Homo sapiens: one gene and its partners. The protein of the gene in region 6 interacts with the protein of the main gene of each other region in a pairwise test. Each region holds a gene or a part of one and is shown on either strand. Other genes may lie near its edges.

Region 1 (4,332 bases), on a different chromosome or scaffold from region 6:
ATATCAGCTCACTCAGGGAAAACACATAGAATGAGAAGAGAATTTATTACCAACCTATGGGAATATCAGAAATTAAAGCGTAGACAGACAAGGAGACTACAAAGGAGATTAAGAAGGAACAGCCAGAGAAAGAGGTCAGAAAACAGTAAAAGTGGAAGAGCCAAAGCCATTAGGAGTGAGTTTCAAAGATAGAATGGTCAGCAGTGTCAAGTGCATTCAGAACCTTAAGGAACAAAGTAATAACATGAGCATGATGTGACCCTGCAGAGAGGAAAGCAGGGAATACTCTGATCTCATTCTTTTCCCTCTGGCAAACCCAAGTAGAGGCCATCTAGCAAGGGAGTTTATTGACGTAGGCAACTGTTGGACGTTGAAATGCTGTCTTACGTTCATACCCACAATTATTTCACCATGGAAAAGCCAGCAATACGCAGAGTATAATTAGCTTGTGGCATGTATGTGGTACATTACGACTGAGAAATTTGTGTTCACCATGACCACAAAGCCATGCCATAGAGAAAAGATTTGTTGGTTTCGCTCCACTGTTGACAGGAAAACGTGGATTAGGGTTAGTCTTCATGGATCCAGTCGTGTATGCAATAAAGAAAGGCATTTACTACACAAAGTTCAGAGGACTTCGAAACCATTCTACACACAGTTTATTCACATCCTGATTATGATTTAGTTGTTGAAGGAAATAATTAAAATCATAAGTATAATCAGACTGTAGCCATCAAGTGTGTGTGTTTGTGTATATATATGTATATGTGTATGTATAATTTTTTTACTATGACAATGAGAGGAAATAGGCAGCAAATATGACTTTGCTTTCTACTGTGCTTTTTAAAGGCAGTTTTTATTATCAGCATGTAGTTTTATAATCATTGAAAAGTTAATGTCAAGATAAATACTTAGGAAAAAATATTGAATTTATCAATTGGTTCTAGTATAATCTTTAATGTTATAAATATATTAGTATACTGTGTTTTTCAAGTGCAATTTTGCTAAATGAGTCACAGCTTTTAAATCTGGAATATTATTAAGGATGGTGATCACAAATACCTTGAGAATTATTTTTGTGTCTAGGTTTAGCGACACCAGTAGACTTGAAGCTAAAATTGATACCCATTCTACAGCACATGCACCATGATGCAATCTTGGCTTCCAGTGCTCGTCAGCTTTTACAACAGCTGGTCACATCCTATCCGTCCACCAAAATGGTGATTGTGTCTTTGCACACTTTCACTCTGCTTGCAGCGTCATCTTTGGTTGATACACCTAAGCAGGTAATTTCAATTTTCTTTAAACTGCCTATCTTTGGTAAACTTACATATTAAATATATGATTAGAAATAAGAAAGTGGCCCACAAGTCTTGAGGACATTAAGGTTCTTTTCTCTAATAAAGGTCAGATTAATTTGCTTTTGCTTGCTTTTTTATTCTCTCTGTTCACAGTACTGATTGTTGGGAGCCCTTGAGGAAAATGAGATGTTATGGAGTACATGGCTGGGTGTGAAGTTGGCCGTATAAAAAAAAAAAAAGAAAGGATTGAGTATCTGTAAAATGCCAGGGCCTGTGCTAAAACTTTAAAGTTAAATGGTAGTATTTTACAAACATGGAGAAAGAGGCCCAAATGTGGGCACATAGCTAGTGAGTGACAGGGCTCTGATTTGAAGTGAGTCCTGTCCCTTTATAAGTTTCACTAAACTACACTGCATTTCTAATGATCATTTCAGTTACAGTATTGTTTATGGAGTGACTTATTTCCTTTATAGATTCAGCTTCTGTTGCAGTATTTGAAGAATGATCCCAGGAAGGCAGTAAAGAGACTTGCTATTCAAGATCTGAAATTACTTGCTAATAAAACACCACATACTTGGAGTAGGGAGAATATTCAGGTATGTAGAACTTGTAACATTTTATATAGAAAAAATAATATAACATTATAATATAGTAAAATGTTTTGCATTTTTATATTGTCTTTGTCATCTTCTAAGTGGTTGAATATGAAAAACTTCTAAAAGCATTGTTGATGTTTGTGGCAGTTATTTTATAAGTGGCACAATAAATACATAAAACTTCTATACTTCAATGTTTGTTTTAGTCAGTGAAACTTGCCACTCAGTTGCTTGTTCATTCTCCCATAGTGGCACTAAGGCTAATTGAGAAGCCCAATTACATTGGTTTGGTTTTTTTATTCTTGTATTTTTCAGTCAATTTGGGGAGAAAAATTTAGGGGCTGAATGTTATCTGTAATGGAGGTAGGGCTGGATGGGCAACTTGGGAAATATATTTCTCTCTTCCTGGAGAGCTGAAGACATTCCTAAGTCTTCTTTTGTAAACAGAAGAGCAGATCTCACTCTTTAGACTTTTAATGTGCATCTTTGACACCATCTCTTACCATCTGTTAGGTTAAATTAATATTTTATGTTTATTTTTTTCTCAAAATAGAACCCTGTTTGTTTACCCATTACCGATAGAAATAACACCATTTTGCAAATAATGCTATTTAAAATGGAACGGTAGTTTTTATCTCTCAGCTTCATCATGACTCCAGTGGATTAAAAATCTTTGAATTTCAGATTATTAAAACTAAACTGCTGTGTTTGTTTTTCTGTTTGTTTGTTTGTTGTTTTCTAAACATCTTTTAATTTACTATATTATGATTTGATAGTCACAGATATCCCAAGATAAGGGCAGTTGTTAAATCTGCATTTAATAGATAAGCAGTTAGGGTTCAGAGAGACTTAATATGCTTAAGAGAGCATCTTAAGAGAAGTAAATTAAGAATTTAATTAAGAGAGCTTCTGTCCTCTGATCCCTAGTCTTATTGCTTTTTCTACTAAATAATGCTATCTTTCCAAGAAGAGAATGTGCCCAGCCACTTTAGTCATTTTAGAGAATTTGTACAAAGAACCAAACCCAGTTATTTAGAAAGATGAGTGAGAAGCACAGTATTATTCCTTCTCATTTTTTTCTTATTGTGAGATAGATCATACATACAGAAAAGTATGTAAAATATATAAATAGTTTAAATACCTTTAAGTGAGAAAAGTATGTAAAATGTATAAATATTTTAAATACTTTTAAGTGAAAACCCATGCAACTACCATCCAGCTAGAAATAGAACATTACAGGATCACAGAACCCTGCCTCCTTCCCTTGCGTGGTCCTTCCTGGTTGAAACTTTACACCTTCCAAAAGCAAACCACCATTTTGACTTTCATGATAATAATTTCTTTGCTCTTCTTTTACCTTCTTCACATGTCTTCCTAAAGAATACTGTTTAGCTTTGTTTTTGTTTCTTTTGCTCAGCATTACACTGGTGAGACTCATCCATGTCTTTCCCCTTTAATTGTAATGTACTATCCCATTGTATGAATGTATCACAGTTTATTTGCTCTCGATGGGTTATTTCCGCATGGGCCTATTGCAAACAGTGCAGAACATTCTTCTGTTTGTCTCCCAGTTCACACACGCAAATTTCTTTAGAGTGTATACCTGGGAATGAAATTTCTGACTTACAGAAAATGCGTATCTTCAGTTTTAACAGATGATGTCAAACTGTTTTCCAAAGTCAATGAACCAGTTTACATTCCTGCTGTGTATGAGGGCGTCCATTAATCACATCCGTACCAACACATAGAATTATCAGACTTACGTTTTTTACCAGTTTAGAAGTTGTACTTTTTATGTGTAGCTCCTTGATTATTAAAGAAATTGAACACCTTTTTAATATGTTTATTGACCATTTGGATTTTCTCTTATGACATGGCTATTCAGGTCTCTTGCCTATTTTTCTGTTGATTCATAGTTATTTTTTATATATTTGGAATACTCATACTTTGTTAGTCCTTGACAATTCTATATAAATTTCAGAATCAGCTTGTCAAATTTAACAGTTTGATTGGGATTACACTGAATATAAAGATTAGTTTGTAAGAAATTGGTAACTTTATAATATTGTCTTCCAGTGCATGAACATGTTATATCTTTCCACTTATTTTAGGTCCCTTAAATGTGTCTCTTGCCCTAGTCTATTTCGTCTGATATTAATATCACTACTTTAGTTTTCTTTTACATATGTTGACATGATAGGTTGTTTACCATCTTTTTAGTTTCAATCTTTATATATCTTTATGTTTCACATGTTTCTTATAAACAGCATTTAATTGGAGGTTTTTTGGGTTTTTTTGAGACAGAATTTTGCTCTGTCACCCAGGCTGGAGTGCAGTGGTGCAGTCTTGGCTTACTGCAACCTCTGCCTCCAGGGTTCAAGCCATCCTCCCACCTCAACTTCCCAAGCAGCTGGGACTACAGGCATGTGCCACCA
Region 2 (4,332 bases), on a different chromosome or scaffold from region 6:
TGATTTTCAGAGCGTAGGCCTTAGTTTTTTGGTATAATAGTTATTGACTGTTATCAGAGATACAGAAGTAGGGTGTTGATGAGTCTAGTTTGGGACATACAGAGTTTGAGGTGCCTGTAGGACATCCAACTGAAGATACCCAACCAGCTGTTGGGTTTGTGGTTTAGAAGAGAAGGTTGAGACTCAAGGTCTAGACTCAGGCATTGTCTGCTCACAGGTGCTAGCTGAAGGCATGGCAGTGGGGAGGAGAGCCCAGGGAAAATTGAGCACTAAGAGTGTCGGACCCTGGTAAGCACTGGGAGCTGCCTGCCTTTCCAGAATTATTTAGTTTGCCCAGGTTCTGGGAAAGTATTCAAGGGAATAAAACCCAGAAGGCTACTATGTATGTATATGTAAATGTTTTTGTTTGTTTTTCTGAGATGGAGTCTCACTCTGTCGCCCAGGCTAGAGTGCAGTGGCGTATCTTGGCTCACTGCAGCCTCTGCATCCTGAGTAGCTGGAATTACAGGCGTGCACCACCATGCCCAGCTAATTTTTTGTATTTTAGTAGAGACGGGATTTCACCATGTTGGTTAGCCAGGCTGGTCTTGAACTCCTGATCTGAAGTGATCCACCTGCCTTGGCCTCCCAAAGTGCTGAGATTATAGGCGTGAGCCACCACACCTGGCCTGTATATGTCAAGTTTTAAGAACACATATTAATCTCATTTAGTTGTACATAAACTGTGTCTTAGAAGGACACTGTAGAAAATCTTTCCGCAGCTCTAAAAATGGATTAAGGTAATGACTAAAAACATTTATTGGTTTATTTTTCATCTTTAAAATGTTTGCATCAAAGAAAAATAATATGGAATAAATAATATCTAGTGATTTCCCTGATGTCACAATATGCCATTGCTTTTTTACAGAGATAGACTCTCTGCTAGTGACATGCTCCAAGTCCGAAAAGTTATGGAACATGTTTATGAAAAAATTATCAACTTGGATAATGAGTCTCAAACCACTAGCTCTTCTAATAATGAAAAACCAGGAGAACAGGAAAAAGAAGAAGATATTGCTGTGTTGGCAGAGGAGAAAATTGAACTTTTGTGCCAGGACCAGGTAAGTGGACTTGAGGACTACAGCCCCAATTTTTCCAGTGCTGGTGCTCATAAAGAGTTACATGCCTTTGGGTGGGGGGCTTCTACTTTTAGAGGGGCTCTAAGGAGCCCTGGGCCTCTCCTACCTAAAGCCCACCCTAAAGCTCCTCTTTACTGCTGGGGAGATTTTCAGAGAAGGGATACATAGACAAATGTGGATGTGCTGGTAGCTTTTTTTTCTGACAAGAAAAAAGACACATGGTCTTCTTGATTTGCAAAAAGCATGTGCCATGTTTATGATTTAGAGTGAAGGTGTGCGGAGAAATGGCAGAACTGTTTTTTAAATCAAGATGCACTCAAAACGTATCCTCAGAGGAATGGCTGAAAGATGGCCTGGTGTTTCTGGCATAGTCACAAAAGATGTACATCTCACTAAGCTCAATTTCATTCCCGCATGCATGGAAGCCGTGACAGCAAGAATTGGATACCAGGCATAGGGGAGGAGTGAGCAAGCTGGATCACCTGATGAGAGTCCCTGAGTTAATGATAAGGTTTTAGATATTAGAGACTTTGAAATTTTTAAATTTAATTTTGGCTATTCAGGTTTTGGATCCAAATATGGACCTTCGAACAGTGAAACACTTCATATGGAAGAGCGGTGGAGACCTCACCCTCCATTACCGTCAGAAGTCCACGTGAAGGCTGGGCTAATGCTCCTGGATATTCATTTACGACCTTCCTCTATGGCCCCAAGAGTAGTCCTAGGAAGCCCACTGATCCCCAACGGGAGCAAGACTTCTAACGGCTGATTGGTATGGACCGAGATTATCTTTCAATTGAAGTGACTAATCGAGATGTAATATAGAAACCAGTCTCCATGTGTAGATTAAGCTGTCCCCAGGGAAGCAGAGTGCAAGAGCAGAAGAGCCCCAAGCAGACTATGTCTTTCAAGATGTACAGAAGACTGACAACAGGCCAGTGCAGACTTTGCTTCCTCCTTTTGTTTCAAAGGACCTTATCTACCCATTAACACTTGTTAGAGACACCTCAGTCGGGCCACAACTGTCTCTGTTTCAACTTTAAGCCCACACACTCTGTAGCTTTTCTAAAACAGTACATTCCATTCATGCAGTAGATATGAAGGCTTTTTCCAAGTTTGTCATATAAAGTAATCAAATTGTTTTCACCGTTTAAGACAGTTATTTTTAATGGGAATTTGCTGTTGCACAATTTGAGAACCAGCCCATTTCATAATAAAAGATTAATGTTGGGCTTGTTGTTAATATTGCATCTCAGATGTGTTCTTGTAGGAAGATCTGTTGAAATTCCAGGTGCTGGATCATAGCACTTGGACTGTTGGGCCGGAGTTTGTGCAGCCCATGCCTAGCGATGCTGCACCTCCCATGATGTCCTGGCTTTGTGGCAACCCCAGGGAGGTGCAGCAGTTTCACTCCTTCCTCCACTGTGTCCAGTTTTATTTACACAAAGCGAGCTGAGACCACAGGTTCTTGCTCTGGATGAGCAGCATGACACCATCAAAATTTAAGACCATGATGAAATTTCAGTTTCATTCAAATGTTACCTAAAATTTATGGTGTCAGAATAAAGGGAGATCATAGTGAGTTAATTTGATATTCATATCCTGGAAGTATACATATTTGTTTTTCCAAAGTTTTATATGCAGGTTTTTGTTGTACCTGTATCCAGATCTTCTTTTCACTGTTCTAACAATCTAACACTTTCATAGAATCATTTGGATCTTGTATAGAGTGTAACTTATTGGGGATAAACACTTCAACTTTTGGCAGAAAATACTTTGGATTCTCCCCAAGGTCATTTGTATTCAGAGTAAATCAGTGGTCCACCCCCATAAAACTGTAAGACAAGCCTCCTGTATGAAGCCAGAAGCACAAGTGCCTTCAGAGGGCAGTTGATTCCAGTCCAGTTGCCTCCCTAGCTTGTGTGTGGCCTGCCTCCACCATAGCAGGGACTAGGGAGGGAGGCAGGGAACGTTTTTTCTTTTCTACATCTTCACAGGTTCGGCTGGGGGCAGCTGATAGGCCTAAGGCCATACCTTACTATTTAAGATACTCTGATCGCACAACTGCAGAGACAGGGTTCCCTCACTGCTAGTCAGCTTCTTTTGGAAACTGGACAGGCCATTGCCACCTGCACTTTGAAGAAGTGAGCAAAGACGTGGCCACATTTCTAATAAGTTGAAATGGTCTTTCTCCCTTCCTCAGAGAGCAACCAGCTTCTTTTTTTTTAAAAGTCCTTTCTATCTGTTGGATACAACAGTGTGCTTTTGGTGCACATTTTTTAGCAATAGTTGTGAATTAATGGCAAAGAAAAAAAAAATTATTTACCAGCCCTCAGTTGTGTTTGCCCGAGGGGCCTTTGAGCAAAGAAATGGGTTTTGCTGGGTCATTTTGCCCTGTGTGCTAAGCCTTGGGTGGCTGCATTCCCCTCCTGTCATAGATCTGACCCCCAGCATGATTGTATTTCTTTCCCCTCCAGTCAAACCGTAATACAGTTTCCAGAAAATTCGACAGTCTGCAATGCCAAAAGGGTAAAAATCTGTATTTCACAGTTGTATAGAATAAAGGCTTTAGTTAAAATATTTCAAAGTGTAGTACACATTTATTTTCATTTGTTATTTTCTTTCATAGCAGATTACAGAGAAAGAAAGAAACCTCTGGTTTCATGTTCTCCCTGGAAATATTAGCATTGATACCCATTTTATCCTCCAACTTATGGGGGAAGGGAAAGTAAAAGTGAGGGAGGGAAGAGCCAGAACCTTTGGGTGAGGGCAACTTTGGGTCAGACTGCCAGGCTACAGAGTTAAGGGAAGCTGGCCCCAGAACAGTCCTGTGGCGATTCTGTTCTACTTCCTGCATTCCAGCAGACTTGACACTGGGCTCCCAGACGATCCAGGACACAATGCCTCACTGTTATGCACACGTATCAGCTGCTCTGGTAGGCTTGACAAGGGTTTGCTTTAAATGAAGGGTTTGCTAATTTGGGACCCTCCCTCCATATAGTTGGCCTGTGCCCCCCAGAGCAGACATTCCTTGTCCTGCATACCTGACACAGCTTGTGAGTTCCCTGCATGTACACCAGCATTACAAATGATCCTGTAAAGGTGAGACTTTCAACTAGGCACAAGCTAGAAGACGAGGCCAGAGCAGCTTTCATAGTAATTAGCAGTGTGGGAACTGAGGGTCCAGTCAACACAGCAGAGGACTTCAGGTGAT
Region 3 (4,332 bases), on a different chromosome or scaffold from region 6:
CCAAAGCTGGTGAGCGGCACTCTGGCCCGGTGCGGTCTCCTAACTCGCAGTGTCTATTGGGCACCCCTCTGGCTGTGCTGCACAGTCACCCTGCTGCCGGCGGACCAGCCCTCTCCCATGCACCCTCTCTCCTTGTCCGCTCGAGGCTGCAGGTGGCACTGCCTCCTTCCCAGAATTCTGCAGGGCAGCAGCCAGACAGGTGTTAGCCCTGGAGCTCTGAGCCAGACCCCCGAGCGAGCGTCCAGCCAGTCCACTCGCGTCAAGTCTTCTGAGGGTTGCCGCCCAGAAATTCAACAGAGAAGGGCAGGCAGATCAGAGTGAGGATGACTTTGGTTCACATTCCTGCCTTCCTCCTGAGCAGCTGTCTGAACCCGGGGAAGTTAGCTCTCACCAGGTCTTTCTTAGCCACAGTTTCTCTTTGGAAAAACTGAGAAAGTAAAGTGCTTTGCCTTGCAACAATCTTCACTTGGTTGTGAGGATTAAGATAAAGTTAATATGCGTAAAGTACCTGGCTTATGATAGGCACCAAGTAAGCATTTGCTGTCACTTAGTGGTTGTAGGGCCAGCAGCCATGCTGATAGCAGTGGAGGCAGCAGCCAAGACCCTCATGGCAATAGCGTGGTGGTTGTAGTTGTTAATACAGCACATCCACCCTCAACAACCTGTTCTTTGTAGCATTGATTTATTTTATTTATTTATTTATTTTTGAGATGGAGTCTTGCTCTGTCACCCAGACTGGAGTGCAGTGGCACCATCCTGGCTCACTGCAGCCTCCACCTCCCAGGTTCAAGTGATTCTCCCACCTCAGCCTCCCAAGTAGCTGGGACTACAGACATGAGCCACCACTCCTGGCTAATTTTTGCATTTGTAGTAGAGATGGGGTTTCACCATGTTGGCCAGGCTGGTCTTGAACTCCTGACCTGAAGTGACCCACCCGCCTCAGCCTCCCACGGTGCCGGGACTACAGGTGTGAGCCACCGCGCCTGGCTTGCATTGATTTTTTTTTTTTTAATCGCAACAATGACAACAAAGCCCCTGGAGTGTCGCCATGTTTCTTGTGTGTAATTTAGTTTAGTATGTAAGTCAGCACAATTCATAACTGACTTCCAATCCCCGCCCATTGCAAAGAAAAAAATGTTCTTTTAAGTGTTTTCTAAGTACAACTTGGGTTTTATTACAAAGTGGATTAAGAAGGAATTATGATTTGAGGGTTACGTTTTTTGGGATTTATTTGTTTTTAGCTACTGGCACCTGTTGCTCACAGTCCTGCGGGTCGAGCAGGTCCTGCTGCGCAGGCTTTCGCTGGTGTCTGCTGGGGGATCGGGGCTCTTACAGGGCTGCAGTCCCATGGCAGCTGGGACTAGAGTCACCCAGAGGCTCAGCTGGAACAATTTGGCCTCTTTCCCTCTCCATGCGTGTCAGAGCCTGAGAGCTAAGCATTGATTAAGCTGTTTTATGCTCATTTTATTTTCTCTTTCAAAGCTCTGTGTTGCCATTATTAAAATTAATTTTTCTGTCCTCAGGGAATAAGATGAAAAGAAACTGACATTTATAGGAAATCAAGTATTGCCATTATTGTCCTCTTTATAATTTTGTCTTAACTATATTTGTTCAAGTTTCAATGTTTTTAATTCAGTTTCTGAGCAAGGTCGTTTTTGGCTACTGTCAGCTGGAGACAGTGAGTGGAGTGGCCTCTGTGGCTATGTGAGAGCCACTGTGAAGAAAGTCTCGGGATGTGTGGCTGTCAGAAAACAAGTAACGCGGAATGAGCAGGCCTTGCATTTTAGACCTTAGGGATCCTGTGCGATGTGGGACTGTTGGAATATGGAGCAGCCTGAGAGTGGAGAGGCGAGGGCTCAGCAGGAATGCGTGCTCCCAGGCTCACCGTGCGGTTTTCTTTATAGGACAATACATGGCTTGATATACAACGCCCTGAAGCTCTTCATGGAGATGAACCAAAAGCTATTTGATGACTGTACACAACAGTTCAAAGCAGAGAAACTAAAGTGAGTTGTTCCTTTCACAAGTTACTGTTTCCAGGATTTTTTTCTTAATCCTAAGTAAACCTCTTCCACTGTTTTGTCCTAAAACGGTATTCTTCACTCGAAAGCAAAACCAAGCCTTTCATACTTGGAAAGCAAATTAAAACTGTGTTATAATAACGTATTTTGAAAGAACAGGTGTTTAAAGGTAGCTATTCTCCCCCCTTGTATTGCCAGATTAATCATCTTTGCAAAAAGTGCTTATGTAAGCAAGAATTTAACATTCAGAATTTTTTCTTTTCTTGGGCTATAATGGGCTTAAAGGCTATAATGTGTAGTCCATTTTCATGTTTATAAGGCAGGGATTTGAATTATATCCTATAAGGTTTATCCCAGAGAGCAAGAATCTTCATTTCAATGTAGCTTTATTCTGATTTAATGAACTCAGCGATGTGGGTGTTCTCTGGAATCTAGTCTGTCCTTTGCAAAATCAGGGTCCTGCCCTCGTGCCTTTGAGCCCACATGTGTCCAGGGATGATCTAAGTGACAAAGTACTTCGTCCCTAGGCTGTGCAAGTAATAATGTGATTAAATAGTTGTTGGAGGTCACTTCTTCCAAGTTGAGTATGGACTATTGGCAGATTTTATTTTTTGCTTGTCACTTAAAACTGGCTAAGGTAGATAAGCTTTGCACGAATGTAATTCAAAATACACTGTATACATATGTGTGTATCTATGTGTGTGTGTGTGTGTGTATATATATGAAACAACTGCCATTTAGTCATTCCTTAGACAAATATGTGAATATTTACCTTATACACCAGGCCCTGTTTTAGATTCTGGCAATATAGCAATGAATAAAACCCACAAAAATCCTTGCCCCTGGGCCGGGTGCGGTGGCTCACGCCTGTAATCCCAGCACTTTGGGAGGCCAAGGCGGGTGGATCACAAGGTCAGGAGATTGAGACCATGCTGGCTAACACGGTGAAACCCCATCTCTACTAAAAAATACCAAAAAAGGGCCAGGCGTGGTGGCTCATGCCTGTAATCCCAGCGCTTTGGGAGGCCGATGCAGGCAGATCACGAGGTCAGGAGATCGAGACCATCCTGGCTAACACAATGAAACCCCGTCTCTACTAAAAATACAAAAAAAAAGGCCGGGCATGGTGGCTCATGCCTGTAATCCCAGCACTTTGGGAGGCCAAAGCAGGCAGATCACCTGAGGTCAGGAGTTCGAGACAAGCCTGGCGAACACAGTGAAACCCCGTCTCTACTGAAAATACAAAAAATTAGCCGGGCGTGGTGGCAGGCGCCTGTGGTCCCAGCTACTCAGAGTCTGAGGCAGGAGAATGGTGTGAACCTGGGAGGCGGAGCTTGCAGTGAGCTGAGCTCACACCACTGCACTCCAGCCTGGGAGACAGAGAGAGACTCCGTCTCAAAAAAAAAAAAAATACAAAAAAAAATCAGCCGGGTGTGGTGGCGGGTGCCTGTAGTCCCAGCTACTCGGGCTGAGGCAGGAGGATGGCGTGAACCTGGAGGCGGAGCTTGCAGTGAGCCAAGATCACGCCACTGCACTCCAGCCTGGGCGACAGAGCGAGACTCCGTCTCAAAAAAAAAATCCTTGCCCTTTTGGGGTTTATATTCTGGGTAGTGTGGGGAAATAAAAGAACACAAAATACACCTAAGTGAACTATAGAGCATGAGAGATGACAAGTCAGTCAGGAAAGGGCCGGGGAGACAGACCAGCCATTCCTCTAGAGCTGCCAGCTGCATGGTCTGTTCTCATCTCAGCTCTCAGTGCAGTTCGCAGGTAGGAAGCATGCAAGCAGCAGGGCCTTCTGATGGCAGATCCTCCTCTCGTGGAATCCCACAGCTTTCCCAACAGGACCTTAAAGGTTGTGTAGTACATTTTCTGGGTTGAAAAACTTGGATCCTGGCCGGGCGCAGTGGCTCACACCTGTAATCCCAGCACTTTGGGAGGTTATGGCTGGTGGATCATTTGAGGTCAGGAGTTCGAGACCAGCCTGGCCAATATTGTGAAACCCCATCTCTACTAAAAGTACGAAAATTAGCCGGGCGGTAGTAGCACGCACCTGTAATCCCAGCTACTCGGGAGGTTGAGGCAGGAGAATTGCTTGAGCTCGGGAGGTGGAGGTTGCAGTGAGCCAAGATCCTGCTACTGCACTCCAGTCTGGGCGACAGAGTGAGGCCCTGTCTCAAAAAAAAAAAAAAACTTGGATCTGAGTTAAGCGATTGAAAGTCATGTGACTCGCAGTGGAGTCAGTCAACAACCCAGGTCTCCTGGCTCTTAAGACGTTTCCTTTTTAATATTATAGGAATGGGAATGCTGG
Region 4 (3,655 bases), on a different chromosome or scaffold from region 6:
GCGGCTCACACCTCTAGTCCTAGCACTTTGGGAGGCTGAGGCAGGTGGATCGCTTGAGCTTAGGAGTTCGAGACTAGTCTGGGCAACGTGGCAAAACCCCATCTCTCCAAAAAATACAAAAATTAGCCAGGCATAGTGACATGCACCTGTAGTTCCAGCTACTTAGCAGACTGAGGTGGGAAGATTGTTTGAGGCTGCAGTGGGCCATAATCATGCCACTGCACTCAAGCCTGGGCAACAGAGCGAGACCCTGTCTCAAAAAACCAAATAAATAAATAAATTGCAGAAAAAAATATTAGGAGGAAAATGCAAATATCAGAAGCTTCTGGAGGAGGTAGGTAGATCTTTAAAACTTCATTATAGGCCGGGTGCCGTGGCTCACACGTGTAATCCCCGCACTTTGGGAGGCCAAGGCGGGTGGATCACTTGAGGTGAGGAGTTCAAGACCAGCATAGCCAACATGCTGAAACCCCGTCTCAACTAAAAATACAAAAATTAGCTGGGCATGGTAGCATACGCCTGTAATCCCAGCTCCTCAGGAGGCTAGGGCAGGAGAATTGCTTGAATCCAGAGGGCAGAGGTTGCAGTGAGCCGAGATCGCGCCAGTGTACTCTAGCCTGGGCAACAGAGCAAGACTCCGTCTCCAAAAAAAAAAAAAAAAACTTCATTCTAACATATATATGTTTTCCAAATTGTATATATATGGGTATAGATGTGGAAAAGAATAATTATGACAGAAAGCCAGGTGAAAAAAGTCAAGTTTAGAATGGTCCAGCCAAGCACGAGATTCGTGTGCTGAAGGCTATTCAGCAGGTGGAATATCCATTTCTTTAGTGTTGGATATTTATTATTATATATTATATGTTGAAAACCAGTCCAGATGGCTCATATCTGTAATCCCAGCACTTTGGGAGGTCAAAGCAGGAGGATTGCTTGGGCCTAGGAGTTTGAGACTAGCCTGGGCAACATAGGGAGACCCTGTCTCTACCCAAAAAAAAAAAAAAAAGCCAGGCGTGGTGGTGCGGTGCACACCTGTAGTGGGAGGATCACTTGAGCCTGAGAGGTCTAGGCTGCAATGAGCTGTGATTGTGCCACTGCACTCTAATCTGGGCGACAGAGTGAGATCTTGTCAAAAAAAAAAAAAAAAGAAAAGGAAAACCAGAAGGATATACTTTGGAATGTTGATAGTATTTATCCCTAGGTGATAGACTACGGGAGATTTGTTTGATTGTTTACTTTTCTGCATTTTCTAAATTGTCTACAGTGGGCCCTTTTGTAGTAAGAAAAGAAATGTTTTAAAAATTTTGAAAGGTTTGAAAACCAGCAAATAGAAAAAGACCCCTTAACATTTTCCTCTGAAGAGGCCACTGAAACATGGATGTGTAGTAAGTCAGGCCTGCAGGGAGCTGTGGCTATAGGTGGCTTCAGCTGGAGCCATCCATGGCTCTGGCTGGGACCTTGGTAGGTTCCAGGGTTCCTGGGTTCTTTCCTTACTTCTTGCCCAGCTGGATTCACTCCTGCTTGCGAAAAGCTGACAAAAACAAGGACAACAAGATGAGCTTCAAGGAGCTGCAGAACTTCCTGAAGGAGCTCAACATCCAGGTGGACGACAGCTATGCCCGGAAGATCTTCAGGGTGAGGCAGGAAGTGGGGGCTGGGGCTGCCTGTCCATGGGGCCCTTGACCCCGGCCCAAGGCCTGCTCTGAGCCCACTCGGCTGTCCTGGCTCTGCAGGAGTGTGACCACTCCCAGACAGACTCCCTGGAGGACGAGGAGATTGAGGCCTTCTACAAGATGCTGACCCAGCGGGTGGAGATCGACCGCACCTTCGCCGAGGCCGCGGGCTCAGGGGAGACTCTGTCGGTGGATCAGTTAGTGACGTTCCTGCAGCACCAGCAGCGGGAGGAGGCGGCAGGGCCTGCGCTGGCCCTCTCCCTCATTGAGCGCTACGAGCCCAGCGAGACTGGTGAGAGCCTGACCAGGGCCTGCTACCTGCAGTCGCAGGGCCGCACTGGGCTGGGAGACCCCTGGGGAGACTGCAGCCAGAAAGAAGGGAACCGGAGGGAAGGGGCTGCCTCAGCCAGCCCCGGGGCCCTGCTCCACACTTTCTGGTCCTATGAAAGCCGGCAGATGAGAGACAGGGCTCTGGCATCCCTACCCTTCTCTGGTCCTGTTTCCCTCTTGGCACCTCCTTCAGGGGGCTTTGAGGACCCCTTCTTCAAGAAACAAGAGAGATGGCTGAAAAGCAGATGCTACTCCTGCTTCTTTTTTTTTTACTCATTCTTGGCCCAGCTTTGAGATGTGATAGAGCAGAGAAGATGGGTCCCTGCCCTGGAGGGGGCTCCAGTCTGGAGGTACAGAGAACGGGGAGATGACACCCTGTCCTCAGGGGTCTTAGAGTGTGCAGACAGGGGAGGAGGAGGAGACAGGGCCCCACTCTGGAGTAGCCACAGTCTGGTCGAGAGCCTCAGACTTATCCTAATTCCAAGAGCTCTGGAAGACTGGCTCAGGACAGGCAGGCAAGCGGGTTCAGAGGGCTCCTCTGTCCAGATGGGTGGGCAGCCAGGAGCGCCTGCTGGAGGCTGGCTCTGACGGGCAGTGGCCTCCTCCCTCCCAGCCAAGGCGCAGCGGCAGATGACCAAGGACGGCTTCCTCATGTACTTACTGTCGGCTGACGGCAGCGCCTTCAGCCTGGCACACCGCCGTGTCTACCAGGACATGGGCCAGCCACTTAGCCACTACCTGGTGTCCTCTTCACACAACACCTACCTGCTGGAGGACCAGCTAGCCGGGCCCAGCAGCACTGAAGCCTACATCCGGTGCTGCTCAGGGAGCCTTGGGTCGGGAGTCTGGGTGGGACCCGGGACAGGACCTGGAGGGTCCTAGCCACCACCCTCCCCGCAGGGCACTGTGCAAAGGCTGCCGATGCCTGGAGCTTGACTGCTGGGACGGGCCCAACCAGGAACCAATCATCTACCACGGCTATACTTTCACTTCCAAGATCCTCTTCTGCGATGTGCTCAGGGCCATCCGGGACTATGCCTTCAAGGTGGGAGTGCCCCTGGCAGGTGAGGAGTGGGATGCTAGGGGTGGCCCACCACTCCTAATGTGCCCTTGGGCCTCCAGGCGTCCCCCTACCCTGTCATCCTATCCCTGGAGAACCACTGCACACTGGAGCAGCAGCGCGTGATGGCGCGGCACCTGCATGCCATCCTGGGCCCCATGCTGTTGAACCGACCACTGGATGGGGTCACCAACAGCCTGCCCTCCCCTGAGGTGTGTGGTGGGGATGGGGGATCCCTGGGGGAGGGTGGGGAGCCTAGCCGGGGCGCTAGGTGTGTCTTGACCAGTTGCCCCTCCCCACCTAGCAACTGAAGGGGAAGATCCTGCTGAAGGGGAAGAAGCTCGGGGGGCTCCTGCCCCCTGGAGGGGAGGGTGGCCCTGAGGCCACTGTGGTGTCAGACGAAGACGAGGCTGCTGAGATGGAGGATGAGGCAGTGAGGAGCCGTGTGCAGCACAAGCCCAAGGTTTGAGGGGGAGCTGTGGGGTGGGGCAGCCCGGGCCTTCCCCATCCCCTCACCCGTGGGAGGTCTGCCTTGTCTCAGTTCTCTGTGGCTGCCACTCAGACCCTCTGCCCCGCTCTCTCTGTCTGTCTC
Region 5 (4,332 bases), on a different chromosome or scaffold from region 6:
GGAGAACCTTTATGTCTAGCCCAGGGATTGTAAGTACACCAATCGGCACTCTCTATCTAGCTCAAGGTTTGTAAACACCAATCAGCACCCTGTGTCTAGCTCAGGGTCTGTGAATGCACCAATCAACACTCTGTATCTAGATACTCTGGTGGGGCCGTAGAGAACCTTTATGTCTAGCTCAGGGATTGTAAATACACCAATCGGCACTCTGTATCTAGCTCAAGGTTTGTAAACGCACCAATCAGCACCCTGTGTCTAGCTCAGGGTTTGTGAATGCACCAATCGACACTCTGTATCTAGCTACTCTGGTGGGGCCTTGGAGAACCTTTGTGTCCACACTCTGTATCTATCTAATCTGGTGGGGACATGGAGAACCTTTATGTCTAGCTCAGGGATTGTAAACGCACCAATCAGCACCCTGTCAAAACAGACTACTCCGCTCTACCAATCAGCAGGATGTGGGTGGGGCCAGATAAGACAATAAAAGCAGGCTGTTCGAGCCAGCAGTGGCAACCCGCTCAAGTCCCCTTCCACACTGTGGAAGCTTTGTTTTTCCTCTTTGCAATAAATTTTGCCACTGCTCACTCTTTGGGTCCACACTGCTTTTATGAGCTGTAACACTCACCTCGAAGGTCTGCAGCTTCACTCCTGAAGCCAGCAAGACCACGAGCCCACCGGGAGGAACAAACAACTCCAGACGTGCTGCCTTAAGAGCTGTAACACTCACCATGAAGGTCTGCAGCTTCACTCCTGAGCCAGCGAGACCACGAACCCACCAGAAGGAAGAAACTCCGAACACATCCGAACGTCAGAAGGAGCAAACTCCAGACGTGCCACCTTAGGAGCTGTAACTCACCGTGAGGGTCCGCGGCTTCATTCTTAAAGTCAGTGAGACCAAGAACCCACCAATTCCAGACACACCATCACTCCCAACACATCCTCCCTCCCCACATTTTTACCAAACCTCATCTCTCCCAACTTCACTTAAGGGCAAAGAATTAAAGCAGGGTGGGTGGAATAGCAGACATTCCCTCCCTTATTCTTCGCTAAGATAATCTTAGCTAGATTAGTGGCAGCAATGTACCCAGCCCCAGGTGATAAACCACTAATGGCACACTGGTTCTCAAGGGGTAGTAGTATCCCCCTTCCACTGAGAGTATTCGTAGATGTAGAGGGGACATTTTTATTTATTTCAATACCTGGGAGGCATTAGTATTTTAGGAGGCAGGATCAGGGATGCTAGATGTCCTGCAATGCATGGGACAATTCTGATCTCCCTTACCATAAATTGTATCAGCCTCCTTTGGCCTGTGGGACAGAAGCGGAAATCTGCTGGAAAACTTGCAAAAGTGTTCCTTTCTTAATCAAAGGAACAAATGTCACCACTGCCACCACTTTCTCCTCCTTCCTGATGTAAACACAGGCATAACACCTGGAGCAGTAGCATGAGGGGACATGTAAAACATCCTAAGAATGACACAGCAGAGTGCCTAGATATGTGATACTTATTATTAAATTATATTAGGAGCAGAATGAACACCTTTTCAGATATGTTGTTTTCTTAAAGTTACTCTTAATTGATTTGCTGTTACTTGCAGCTGAAAGCTTTCCTAACTGATATGAGGCATAAATTAGAAGTCGTAAAGAAACATGACAGAGGGGGATTGTGTTAAATGCTGCTCTTTAGATACCATATCTGTTTTTTATTCTATGACATCCATAATACCCATTTTCTCTCTGGGTACTTGTTGAATTCATTATCTTAAGATTTACAGCTACTAGATAATGTATCTGTACTTTTTTAAACCTTCTGCCCATAAACATCTGGGCTGTGTCCCATATACCCTCTCCTCTATAGAATAAAGCTGATTAAAAAGAAGTGGATTATTTTCGATTTCCTACATCATAGTCATGTCATCTGTGAATAGTTTTATTTCTTAATATGCCTTTCCTTTTTTAAAAAAATTTGTTTGCCTTATGGCACTGATTAGAACCTACAGTACAAAGCTAAATAGAAATCGTAACATTGGAGATCTTTGTCCTGGTCCCAATCTTGAGGGGAAGGCATTCAATATTCACCATTGGGTACAATGGGTCAATTGGATCATCTGTAAGTTTTTGTGTGTGTACCCATTCCTAGATTTAGGAAGTTCCCTTGTATTCCTCACTTGCCTATAGGCTTTTTTTTTTTTTTTTTTTTGAGACATGGTTTTGCACTGTCACCTAGGCTGAAGTGCAGTGGTGTGATCACAGCTTCAGCCTCCTGAATATCCACGACTACAGGTGTGTGCCACCATGCCCAGCTAATTTTTAAAAAATGTTCTGTAGAGACAAGGTCTCACTGTGTTGCTGAGGCTGGTCTCAAACTCGTGGCCTCAAGTGATCCTCCCACCTCAGCCTCCCAAAGCACTTGGATTGCAGGCATGAACCACCATGCCCCTGCTTATAAACTTCTTTAAAAGCATTTCTTGTAGAGTAGGCAATGCATTCTTCTCAGTTTTTGTCTGCCTGAGAATGTCTTTATTTTGCATTCGTTTTTTAAAGGATATATTCCCTGGGTATATATTAATTCTAGGCTGGCATTCTAGGTCACTTTATGTCATTCCATTGTCTTTTGGCTTCTATGGTTTCTATTAAGAAATCACCTATTTGTCTTATTATTGTTCCCCTGAAAAGTAAAGTGCCCTTTTACCCCTCCGCCTGCTCTCAAGATTTTGTCTTTTTCAGCAGTTTAGCTGTGATGTACCTGTGTGTCATTTTCTTTGTATTTATCCTGCCATGGGTTCATTAGACTTCTTGAACCTGTAAACTTGTCTTTCAGAGTGGGAAAATTCTCAGCCATTTCAAATACTACTACTTTTCCACTCTTTTCCTGTGACTGCAATGACATAGACCTTTTTTTTTTTTAGACAGTCTTGCTCTGTCACCTAGGCTTTAGTGCAGTGGTGCAATCTTGGGTCACTGAAACCTCTGCCTCCCAGGTTCAAGCGGTTCTCGTGCCTCAGCCTCCTGAGTAGCTGAGACTACAGGTGGACACAGACCTTTTGACAATGTTCCATATACATCTCTTACATTGTTTTCTATTTTTCTCTTTGCCTTAATTTGGTTGTTGTCTGTTGGCTCGTTTTTTAGTTTCCTAATTCTGTCTTCTAATAAAGCCATATAATTTTATAGTTTGCAGTTATGGAATAAATGTTTCTTATTTTGTAGTTTCTAACTCTGTTGAAGTTCTGCATCTTTTCATCTATTTTCCATCTTTTCAAAATATCAATCATGGTTATTTTCTATCCACCTCATGTAGTAATTCCAGTATCAGGATATTCTATGGGTCTGTTTCTAGTGAGTGTGTTGTTTTAGCCTTTATTAGTCACTTCTTCCTGCTTCTTTGAATGTCTAGTAGTTTTTAACTGTATGCTGGAAACTGTAAATGACACGTTGTAAAGGCTCTGATTGTTAATTTTCTTCTAAATGGTACTGATTTTGTTCTAATGGCAAATCAATTTGATCCTCTTGAGATTTGATTCTAAATTCTGTTGAAGTGGGCATACTTCAGCTTTGTTCTTACTCCTAGCACATTCAGAGTGTATGACCTTTCTTCCTAGTGTATGATAGTGCACTACGTATACCTCAAAGTACACTTTATTCATAGTTTATGACCTTTCTGAGGTCTCAACTGAATTGCCACGGTTTCACAAAAATCTCTTATTTTTGGCTGGGCCCAACCTGCAAAGCCTCTCCCAACACTAAACGGTTCTGATCTCTCGACTTAGCTTTCAGTCTCCCAATAGCTCTTTTCTGCTAAACCTCCTCAAGCTTTACTCCACACATGAGGAGCTTAGGAGTTGGACAAAAACCCAAGGGAAATTTTTGTGCAAACTTTTGGAGGTCCTTCTCTGAAAATGCCTCCTTTCTGGTACTGTCACTCACATCCCAGCCACACTGAAGACTCAAATTCTGCTCCTCTGTCACCTCTCCCTAGATTTCACTCACTGCTTGGGCTATATTTCCCTGCACAAGAATTTGAAAGTGTCCTCAGGAAGAAAGCCTCTGTGAATATGGGCTGAATTTCTAGAAGTCCTTTCTCCCAAGAATCTAGGTGCTGGACTTCGTTTTATATAATTTATACAGCTTTTATGTCTGTTTATGATAGGAGGATAAGTCCAATACTGGCTTCTCTATCATAGCTGAAATGAAAAATCTCTCCCTCTCTGCTGAATTTCACCTAGCACAGCATCTGGAAATTGTCAGGAATTTAAATATTTGTTAAATGAAATTATGGATTGGACTTCAAGGATATGTAGGATTTAAAAGGTAGAAAAAGGAGTTGAAAGG
Region 6 (4,332 bases):
AGTAATAAATAACGACAAAACAAAAACAGGAACTAATTTCCTTCAACTCTTTAGGCTATGTACAAGAAAATATTAGAACTTCTGAGTTGGAGTTGCTAAAGTTCTACACATCCTCCAAGAAGAACTGCTTGTAGAGGAATGTTTTCCCTATTTCTCTATAAATATTTCATGATAAGTTTCCTTCCATCTGCATTGATTCAATGGGTAATAAGTGCTTTCAAGAGAACTGCCTGGCATAGCTGCAAAATAAAATAGAGCACATGACATAATCTCTTGCCAGGTCTAAAATTTTAGCAACTGTATGGTATCAGGTACTTGCAAAAGAAATGATTTCCACAAGCAAGTTACACTTGAAGTAACAGTCCCATGAAGAATTATCCTTTTAGGATGAAAAGGGAGCCACCAGGCCTAGAAGAGTAAACAGGAGGCCTGTAGAACGCCTCATTTCTGACTCCTGACACAGTGCCAGGGCAAGGGCACATCTATGAATGCTCCATGAACGAACAATGCAAGCAAGGAAGCTCCCTGAGGGCAGAAATGGTCTTCTTCACCCCTCTATTTTCAGTACTCAACCCACAGCACAGGTGCACTGAATTAATAATCGTTCTACCCAATGCAATTAAAAGGATTAACAATGCATGTTATAAATTTTATTCTCATGTTCTCTTCCCCAACTTACTCTTCAAACAATTCATGATTTGATTCACATAGACTTAGAATTTTAGAAATATCCCTCATCTAGCTAGCACCACAAAAGCTGAAGAGAACCGGAGCTCCTGCCTCCAGTTCCCGGCCTAGAGTTACTTGTCACAGCTGAGCCCCCTTTTAACATGAGTAATAACAAGGATCAGGTACATAAAATTTGAAACAGGATGGAAAATAGTAGGAATATAAGATGTAGACAAAACAATCTGTCCTAACGAATGAATCCACTTTTCACTCCATTAACTATCATTTCTTTCAGTCTTAAACCCAGAGTTACCCTTTCCCTCCTCCCCCACTCAAAAAAAAGGATACGGCAGAAGAGTTCCACACTGAACGGACAGAATCACCCAAGAAGGCTGAAAAAGAAAAGATTAAATCAAAAAGTATTCTCAATTTACAAGTGGCATATTATTTTACTAGTGTTGTTCTTAGAAATTAAAAGTCTCTGTTACAACCTATTTTAAAACATCCAGATTACAAGTATGAATATTCAAATAGAAATATTATAGTCAAAGATTAGTTACTAATACCCAAGATGAAAAATCCAATTACAGAATGAAGCACTACCATATTTTTTTAAAATTATGTATAAACATTTAAGTTCCAGGTTTACACACTTATTACTGCTGACCCCCACATTTAGGACAGGGGAACTGCCACCCATCCTGCCCCACCACCGCCGACACCTCATCCAGGGCATAGTCAGCCTCTCATACGCTCCCTTCTTGAATCCCAAATTCAGTCAAGTCTAAATTCATGAGGTGTTTGTTTGTTTTAGTGAAGTCAAGCAGATACAATGTTTGTAAGCCTGAAAATATTTTTATAAATTCTAAAAACTGAGATTAATTATAAAACAGATTAATTACTACCTTTCTGGGTAATTTATATTTTTGAAAAATTATCTTGTTTCTATGTTTAATTTTTATAATTATACAAATCATTCTCCTGATAGCTCTACTTCAGAAAATTACTATCAAAATGTAGTAATGCCCCCATTACTACATTCTGGAAGGCAGCTGACTTCCAGAAACTTCAGCCAACTGAAACAGACATATATACTCACTACCCACCCATCAATTCATTCATCAAATATTTATTGAGAATCTATTTTATGCAGAGATGGTGCAAGGCGCTGGGGATGTAACAATGAAAACGAGAAACGCAGTCTTTGCTCTCCTGCAAGTCATATTCCAAGCTAATGATCTTCAAGCTATTTTTGTCATGTACACCTTAAATAAATTTCAGACAATGAAATGCCCCCCTTATCATTTTTTAGATGACATCTAAAATTTTTCAGCATAACTCTAAATAAGTATATTTTCTGTGAGAAGAGGAATATTAAACATTTTATAAAATAAAATAAAGATTGGCAGCTGTGCCTGGGATAATTACTTCATTATGATTTGACATTTACCAAAGGTTTTAACTAAGTTACTGGATTAGTTATCTGAAATCTGAAAGAAGGCACTTAATTTTTCGATCTATGTGCCTTATCCAACATATCTTCACATTTTTTGATAGTCCTAGAAAAATTCCAGTTAAATTTAAAAAAATGGGCCAGCATCAGGAATCGGTATTGGCCTTGACACTTCTGAATTCAGAACACCTTCATGTAGACCAAGCTCTCCTTTCAACAGCAACACCCAGAAACCCCTCTCTCCTCATGATGCCATGACTGAGCACTAAGGGAACAGTCCCTAAAACCAGTCTTTCTAATTGTCCTTTTGTCTGCTGTCCACGAGAATTTTCAGAGCCTGGGGCAATGCACTACAAGATTAGGATGGGTGAAGGTCTGATTCTTCCTGTGTAAAGTGGGAGGGGCCACTGTGACCACAGGTGTGTTCTCAGGCAGCTTTAGGAAGGGCCAGTCTGGAAATGTTATCTATCACCTTACAACCATCCACACAGCATACACGCTGAATATCTCCCCCCAGGGAGCTTGGGTAGGGTATCCCAGTTTAAAGACTGCTGGCTATCATAAAGTCCCATCCAAGCACAGTAGAATCACTGAGGCCCTACTTCAGATAAGTTTAGATAAAATAATGCAAAATTAGGATGTAGGCCACAGTACAAAGCAGAAATGGAGAACTACAAAAGCAAAGTGATAAGGAACTATTTATCCTAAAGGCAAAGAACAATATATAAAAATAAGCTGGCTGATCGCGATGGCTCATGCCTGTAATCTCAGCACTTTGGGAGGCCAAGGCGGGCGGATCACTTGAGGTGACAGGTTCGAGACCAGCCTGGCCAACATGGTGAAACCCCGTCTCTACTAAAAACACAAAAGTTAGCCGGGCGTGGTGGCACACGCCTGTAGTCCCAGCTACTAGGGAGGCTGAGAGAGGAGAATCGCTTGAACCCTGAGGCAGAGGGTGCAGTGAGTCGAGATCACACCATTGCACTCCAGCCTGGGAGATTCTGTCTGAAAAAAAATTAAATAAAATAAGCCCACTACAAGTCAGCAAAATTAACATTTCCAATGATGCCCAAAGGCCACTGAGAAAAATATCTCAATTTAAAAAATAATTTTAAAAGTTTTGGTGCCCAAAGAAGCAAGTTTTAAACATTTATAAGATTCAAATATGTAAATGATAGATAAACTGTCACTGTGTATAAAGATGCCTTATTTTTAAAATGCATTGTCAAACTTCCTATCAAGGTAAAGGCCAAGGGATATGCCTCTAGGGAACCAGGTCTCAGCCTTCAGTCATATGAATTCAGACTCAACTATTAGCAGCAGGATCCAAAATAAGACAGGCCCATAAGGTTCAAACTAAGAATATCAGGATCTACTTGAAATATCTTAGAGTGAAGGCAAACTGTTGAGTCAGCTCCGAAGTACTCTACCACCTTGTAATGTAACACAATAGTCCCTGGACAATACAGGTGCTGTCAAAAATTACAAGCAGGCTGGAATGCTACTGGGTACAGATGAAATATGTCTGTCACTCATTTTAAAATACTATAGCCAGAGGGGGAAAAAGTTGGGTTTGAATACAGTAAACTACCTTGGCAAAATGGTGATAATCCTAGATGCTAACTGCTAATTGTATAAGTAATGGGTATTTCTACTTAGCCTTACATACTGACTTTCCCAGGAATATGAATACTGTGTAAAATGAAGGAAGACTGCTTTGTTTAGCTCAGGAATTGATCACCATTCTGAAATGTCACCTCACAGCGGCGACCCCACTTGTGGGGTATGATATCAATCTGTAATTGCAGCAGCTACCGGCAGTGACTCTACATATAGCAGCAGCCATGCCCAAGTGTTTACACATTGAAATATATATTTATTATTTACTTGCCTTTTATTTCGCCTTCACATTTCAGTTTGGGCAATTTATATATACATATTTTAAAGGTTGGCTTACGTATCGATTCATTTCTGGATAATAAGGGGAGTGCTACAAAGTACTTATTACAAAAAGGTGGTTTGGGGTCAGGCAGGTTTAAGAACTACTTCTGGTAGTTGGCCTGGCAACAATCACCTAGGCCCCAAGGATGTGTTAGAAAGATCACCCTTTCACATAACATCTGCATAAGATATGCAAAGCCGCTTTACTGAGACAATAGCTCCAGGCTATTGTCTGAGAGAAAGAAAGTTTGTAGGAAGGAGAAGGAAGA
Region 7 (3,073 bases), on a different chromosome or scaffold from region 6:
AGAGACGGTCTGCCAGTCCCCAGGCTTACTGAGGGGCAGGGACGACCTGGTCCATTCCCGGTGCTGTGGGTGAGCCACCTTGGGGGAACGGTCACCAGCACCTCCCTGCCTCAGGCTCAGGCTCCTGGGCAGGCGATGAACCCTGACCAGCCCTGCCGGCACACGTGCACTGACCATCACGACCCCCCCAAAAGGGTCACCTCAGGATGTGCAGAGGTGGCCCCACACGCGTGTGGCACGCACGTGCAGCAGGCTTCAGGCCATATCTCTCCTGCGGGCGCAAGGCTACCGACCACCCTGACTTGACACCTGTGCCCACATCACCCTGGCTCTGGGGCTGCAAAGATGAACTCCTGCTGGGGCAACCGTGGCCGGGAGAAGGGGCCCATGCTTCCCTCGGGGAACCTGCCTCTGCCTCTCGCTGCCCAGCGACAGCGTCGGATGGGACCCAGCTCTGCAGCTGAGGGAGCCTGTAGGGGCCGGGGGAGCCACGTGGAGGCGTCAGGCTGCATTCTGCGAGACTCCTGCCCGGCACTGGACTGCATGCCGGGCTGCCCCCTGACCCACAGCCCCTCTCCACTGTGGCCACGAGCCCCTGTGAGACTCCTGCCCGGCACTGGACTGCACGCCAGGCTGCCCCTGACCCACAGCCCCTCTCCACTGTGGTCATGAGCCCCTGCAAGACTCCTGCCCGGCACTGGACTGCACACTGGGCTGCCCTGACCCACGGCCCCTCTCCACTGTGGCCATGAGCCCCAGCAAGCAAGCTGCCATAAAACACGCAGTGTCCACAGGTCTCAGCCTTCTGCACCCTACACGGTTCCTGTCAGGGGAGCCGACCTCTGAGTGCTGGTCTCGGCCGCAGGTGTGCTGCAGCACATGCCTCCCCCACACGCTGCTTCTGGCAGCCGCTGAGGGTGGCAGAGACAGCAGACAGGCCTTGGGAGACCCAGGCATCCTGGCCCCCAGACCCTAGAGCTGCCTGAAAGATGTTTCCACAGGCGTCCTTGCCTCCTTCCCTCCCTCCCTGAGTCTCCGTCCAAACCTCTGCTGTCCTCCGAGGACAGGGTGCAGCGGCAACACCAGAGCAGGAGGGAGATGCAGATGCGAGGGGAGCCATGTTGCTGGGCGCGAGCCTTAAAGTTGCTGTGCTTCCCGACTCAAGTGAAAGGAGAAATGGGACCCGGGGCACGGCCCTCACTTCAGAAGGAAGCACAGCGGCTCCTCAGAGGAATAATGCTCTCCCCAGCACCAAAGCTTTAATTCCTCAGGCTGACAGCGGTGCAGGGGGCCTGGTCCTCATCAGGGTTTCAGCAGCAGATGCCATCACATCTTGTTCTTGGGAAACTGCTGACGACCGAACCCTGGGGCTGAGCTCCCAAGACAAAGGCTGGGCAGGGCCAGGGCCTTGAACCCATGCACACCTGGCTCCAGTCCCTCTGGCTGGTCCGTGGAGAGCGCTGGGGTCTCGCCCTCAAATCCCTCTCCTGTTCTCTGGTGACTTCCCACTTCCCACTCCCCCACCTCTGTCCTCACAAGCGGCGTGGCTGAGGGAAGAGAGCCATCCCACCCCACGCTGTAGCAGAGGCTGCCCAACCTGATTAAAGCTGCCCAGAGTCAAGAGGAGCCTGGGATTGAGACTAAGTCCCCTCAACTGCATGACATGAAAAGTTCCTTTTTGGCAAAGCTGCACCTGAGAGTCCTGAGGAATTCTGAAGGGGCCGAGTCCCCGTCCTTCGTGCCCCTTATCCCTGCTGTCCACGCTGAGGCCTGAGCCTGCCTCTCTGCCTTCTCAGCAGAGCGGCCGGCCGCTGTGACCACTGCTCTCAGGAGAGTGGGGGATGAGAGGCCAGAGGTGATGCAGGCTCAGACCCCGGCTTCAGGAGCTCGGGGTGGGGTCGTGGGACGGTGCGCGATAGCATCAGTCCACAGGGGCAGGCAGAGGCGGTGTGGAGATGCCACGGGGAAGCCACCTGCCCACGGGGGTCCACGGGAGTCCAGGCTACAGGCAGAAAGCCTTGAACTCAGGCCAAGCAGCATGGACCTTCCCTGAGAGCCTGGCTGCAGGTGAGGGATGGCAGGCTAGGAGGGTGCCCAGGAGGGGTGGGTGCAGACGTGGCCAGAGGGAAGGCCCAAGAGACGTCTCTGAAGCCACCGTTCCTGATTATTCAGAGGCAGGGTCCACAGTGAGTGACTCGGTGGGGCTGGAGGAACCCAGGGTGACCCAGAGGGGGCTCTGGAGCGGGTCCCTAACATCTGAAAAAGTCCTCCCAGGGAACTCGGAGCTGGAACTTCCAGGCAGCTTCGGGGGTGACATTTGTATCCGGCCAGCCGAGCGGGGAAAGGAGACCTTGTGTCCTGCAGGGAGAGAGGCAGCCTGGGGGTGAGGGGCAGCCTGGGGTCGCAGGCACCTGGGCTGTTGGGGGCTGTTCTACCTGGCAACAGGGAGAGCCGGGACTGGGATGGCCACAGCTCAGCCTCCAGGTGAGGAGCCCAGGGCCCTGCTCGAGCTGTGACCTCCACGGTCACGGAGTCCTCGGAAAAAGAGAAGTTGAGCTTGTTCCCCTGGTAGAAGATGCCGGAGACGCTCACTCTGGAGATCCCCGACAGACACACAGGGTCAAAGGTCACACCCGCTCGGGTGACCCTGTGGGAGGAGAGGCTTGTGAGGTGGCAGGTGGGGGCATGGGCTGCCCTCTGCCAGCCTCTGCACTTACCTGAACCCCGTGCACCCGAAGACCACCGCCTGCAGGAAGCCCCCCATGCCTGTCAGGAAGTTCACAGCGCCTGACCCGTCTGCATTCTCCGTCCACACCTGCAGGGGCAAGGGCAGCTGACACCAGGACCCCCAGGTCACCGTCCTCTCTGGGCTGCTGTCCCAAGATCCGGCAGGAAGCTCCAGGGGTGCACCCTGCTGTGCCTGCTCTGAGGCTGGGCTCCACTCCCACCACAAGGGGCCCAGTGGGAGGCAGGTGTGGCCAGGCTGACCTTGAAGGGTTCAGCCATGTTGGCAAAGCTCCTGTCCAGGAGGCCCCGGGCCCGCACTGCGTCCTTCAGCTCCATCCAGCCCACA

The links.
Region 1: the proteins of PAXIP1 (region 6) and INTS7 interact in a two-hybrid assay, tested with the Homo sapiens proteins (one large-scale study listed by BioGRID).
Region 2: the proteins of PAXIP1 (region 6) and WDR48 interact in a two-hybrid assay, tested with the Homo sapiens proteins (one large-scale study listed by BioGRID).
Region 3: the proteins of PAXIP1 (region 6) and PPP2R5C interact in a two-hybrid assay, tested with the Homo sapiens proteins (one large-scale study listed by BioGRID).
Region 4: the proteins of PAXIP1 (region 6) and PLCD1 interact in a two-hybrid assay, tested with the Homo sapiens proteins (one large-scale study listed by BioGRID).
Region 5: the proteins of PAXIP1 (region 6) and CABYR interact in a two-hybrid assay, tested with the Homo sapiens proteins (one large-scale study listed by BioGRID).
Region 7: the proteins of PAXIP1 (region 6) and PGGHG interact in a two-hybrid assay, tested with the Homo sapiens proteins (one large-scale study listed by BioGRID).

Annotation. Positions count from the first base shown.
Region 1 is NC_000001.11:212,004,204-212,008,535, reverse strand, and holds part of INTS7 (integrator complex subunit 7), read left to right. Parts: intron 1-1,086; coding exon 1,087-1,286; intron 1,287-1,774; coding exon 1,775-1,897; intron 1,898-4,332. UniProt on the Homo sapiens protein: Component of the integrator complex, a multiprotein complex that terminates RNA polymerase II (Pol II) transcription in the promoter-proximal region of genes.
Region 2 is NC_000003.12:39,092,967-39,097,298, forward strand, and holds the end of WDR48 (WD repeat-containing protein 48), read left to right. Parts: intron 1-907; coding exon 908-1,100; coding exon of another isoform or gene 1,101-1,286; exon of another isoform or gene 1,287-1,681; coding exon 1,682-1,777; 3' UTR 1,778-3,698; downstream 3,699-4,332. UniProt on the Homo sapiens protein: Regulator of deubiquitinating complexes, which acts as a strong activator of USP1, USP12 and USP46. Enhances the USP1-mediated deubiquitination of FANCD2; USP1 being almost inactive by itself.
Region 3 is NC_000014.9:101,907,685-101,912,016, forward strand, and holds part of PPP2R5C (serine/threonine-protein phosphatase 2A 56 kDa regulatory subunit gamma isoform), read left to right. Parts: intron 1-1,904; coding exon 1,905-2,006; intron 2,007-4,332.
Region 4 is NC_000003.12:38,009,524-38,013,178, reverse strand, and holds part of PLCD1 (1-phosphatidylinositol 4,5-bisphosphate phosphodiesterase delta-1), read left to right. Parts: intron 1-1,505; coding exon 1,506-1,635; intron 1,636-1,733; coding exon 1,734-1,965; intron 1,966-2,616; coding exon 2,617-2,818; intron 2,819-2,903; coding exon 2,904-3,048; exon of another isoform or gene 3,049-3,125; coding exon 3,126-3,275; intron 3,276-3,367; coding exon 3,368-3,526; intron 3,527-3,655. UniProt on the Homo sapiens protein: The production of the second messenger molecules diacylglycerol (DAG) and inositol 1,4,5-trisphosphate (IP3) is mediated by activated phosphatidylinositol-specific phospholipase C enzymes. Essential for trophoblast and placental development.
Region 5 is NC_000018.10:24,145,121-24,149,452, reverse strand, and holds part of CABYR (calcium-binding tyrosine phosphorylation-regulated protein), read right to left. Parts: intron 1-4,332. UniProt on the Homo sapiens protein: May function as a regulator of both motility- and head-associated functions such as capacitation and the acrosome reaction. Isoform 1 binds calcium in vitro. Isoform 2 and isoform 6 probably bind calcium. Isoform 3 and isoform 5 do not bind calcium in vitro.
Region 6 is NC_000007.14:154,992,709-154,997,040, forward strand, and holds part of PAXIP1 (PAX-interacting protein 1), read right to left. Parts: intron 1,064-4,332; exon of another isoform or gene 1,062-1,063; coding exon 1,018-1,061; intron 1-1,017.
Region 7 is NC_000011.10:293,841-296,913, reverse strand, and holds the end of PGGHG (protein-glucosylgalactosylhydroxylysine glucosidase), read right to left. Parts: coding exon 2,989-3,073; intron 2,816-2,988; coding exon 2,718-2,815; intron 2,648-2,717; coding exon 2,436-2,647; intron 2,359-2,435; coding exon 2,165-2,358; 3' UTR 807-2,164; downstream 1-806. UniProt on the Homo sapiens protein: Catalyzes the hydrolysis of glucose from the disaccharide unit linked to hydroxylysine residues of collagen and collagen-like proteins.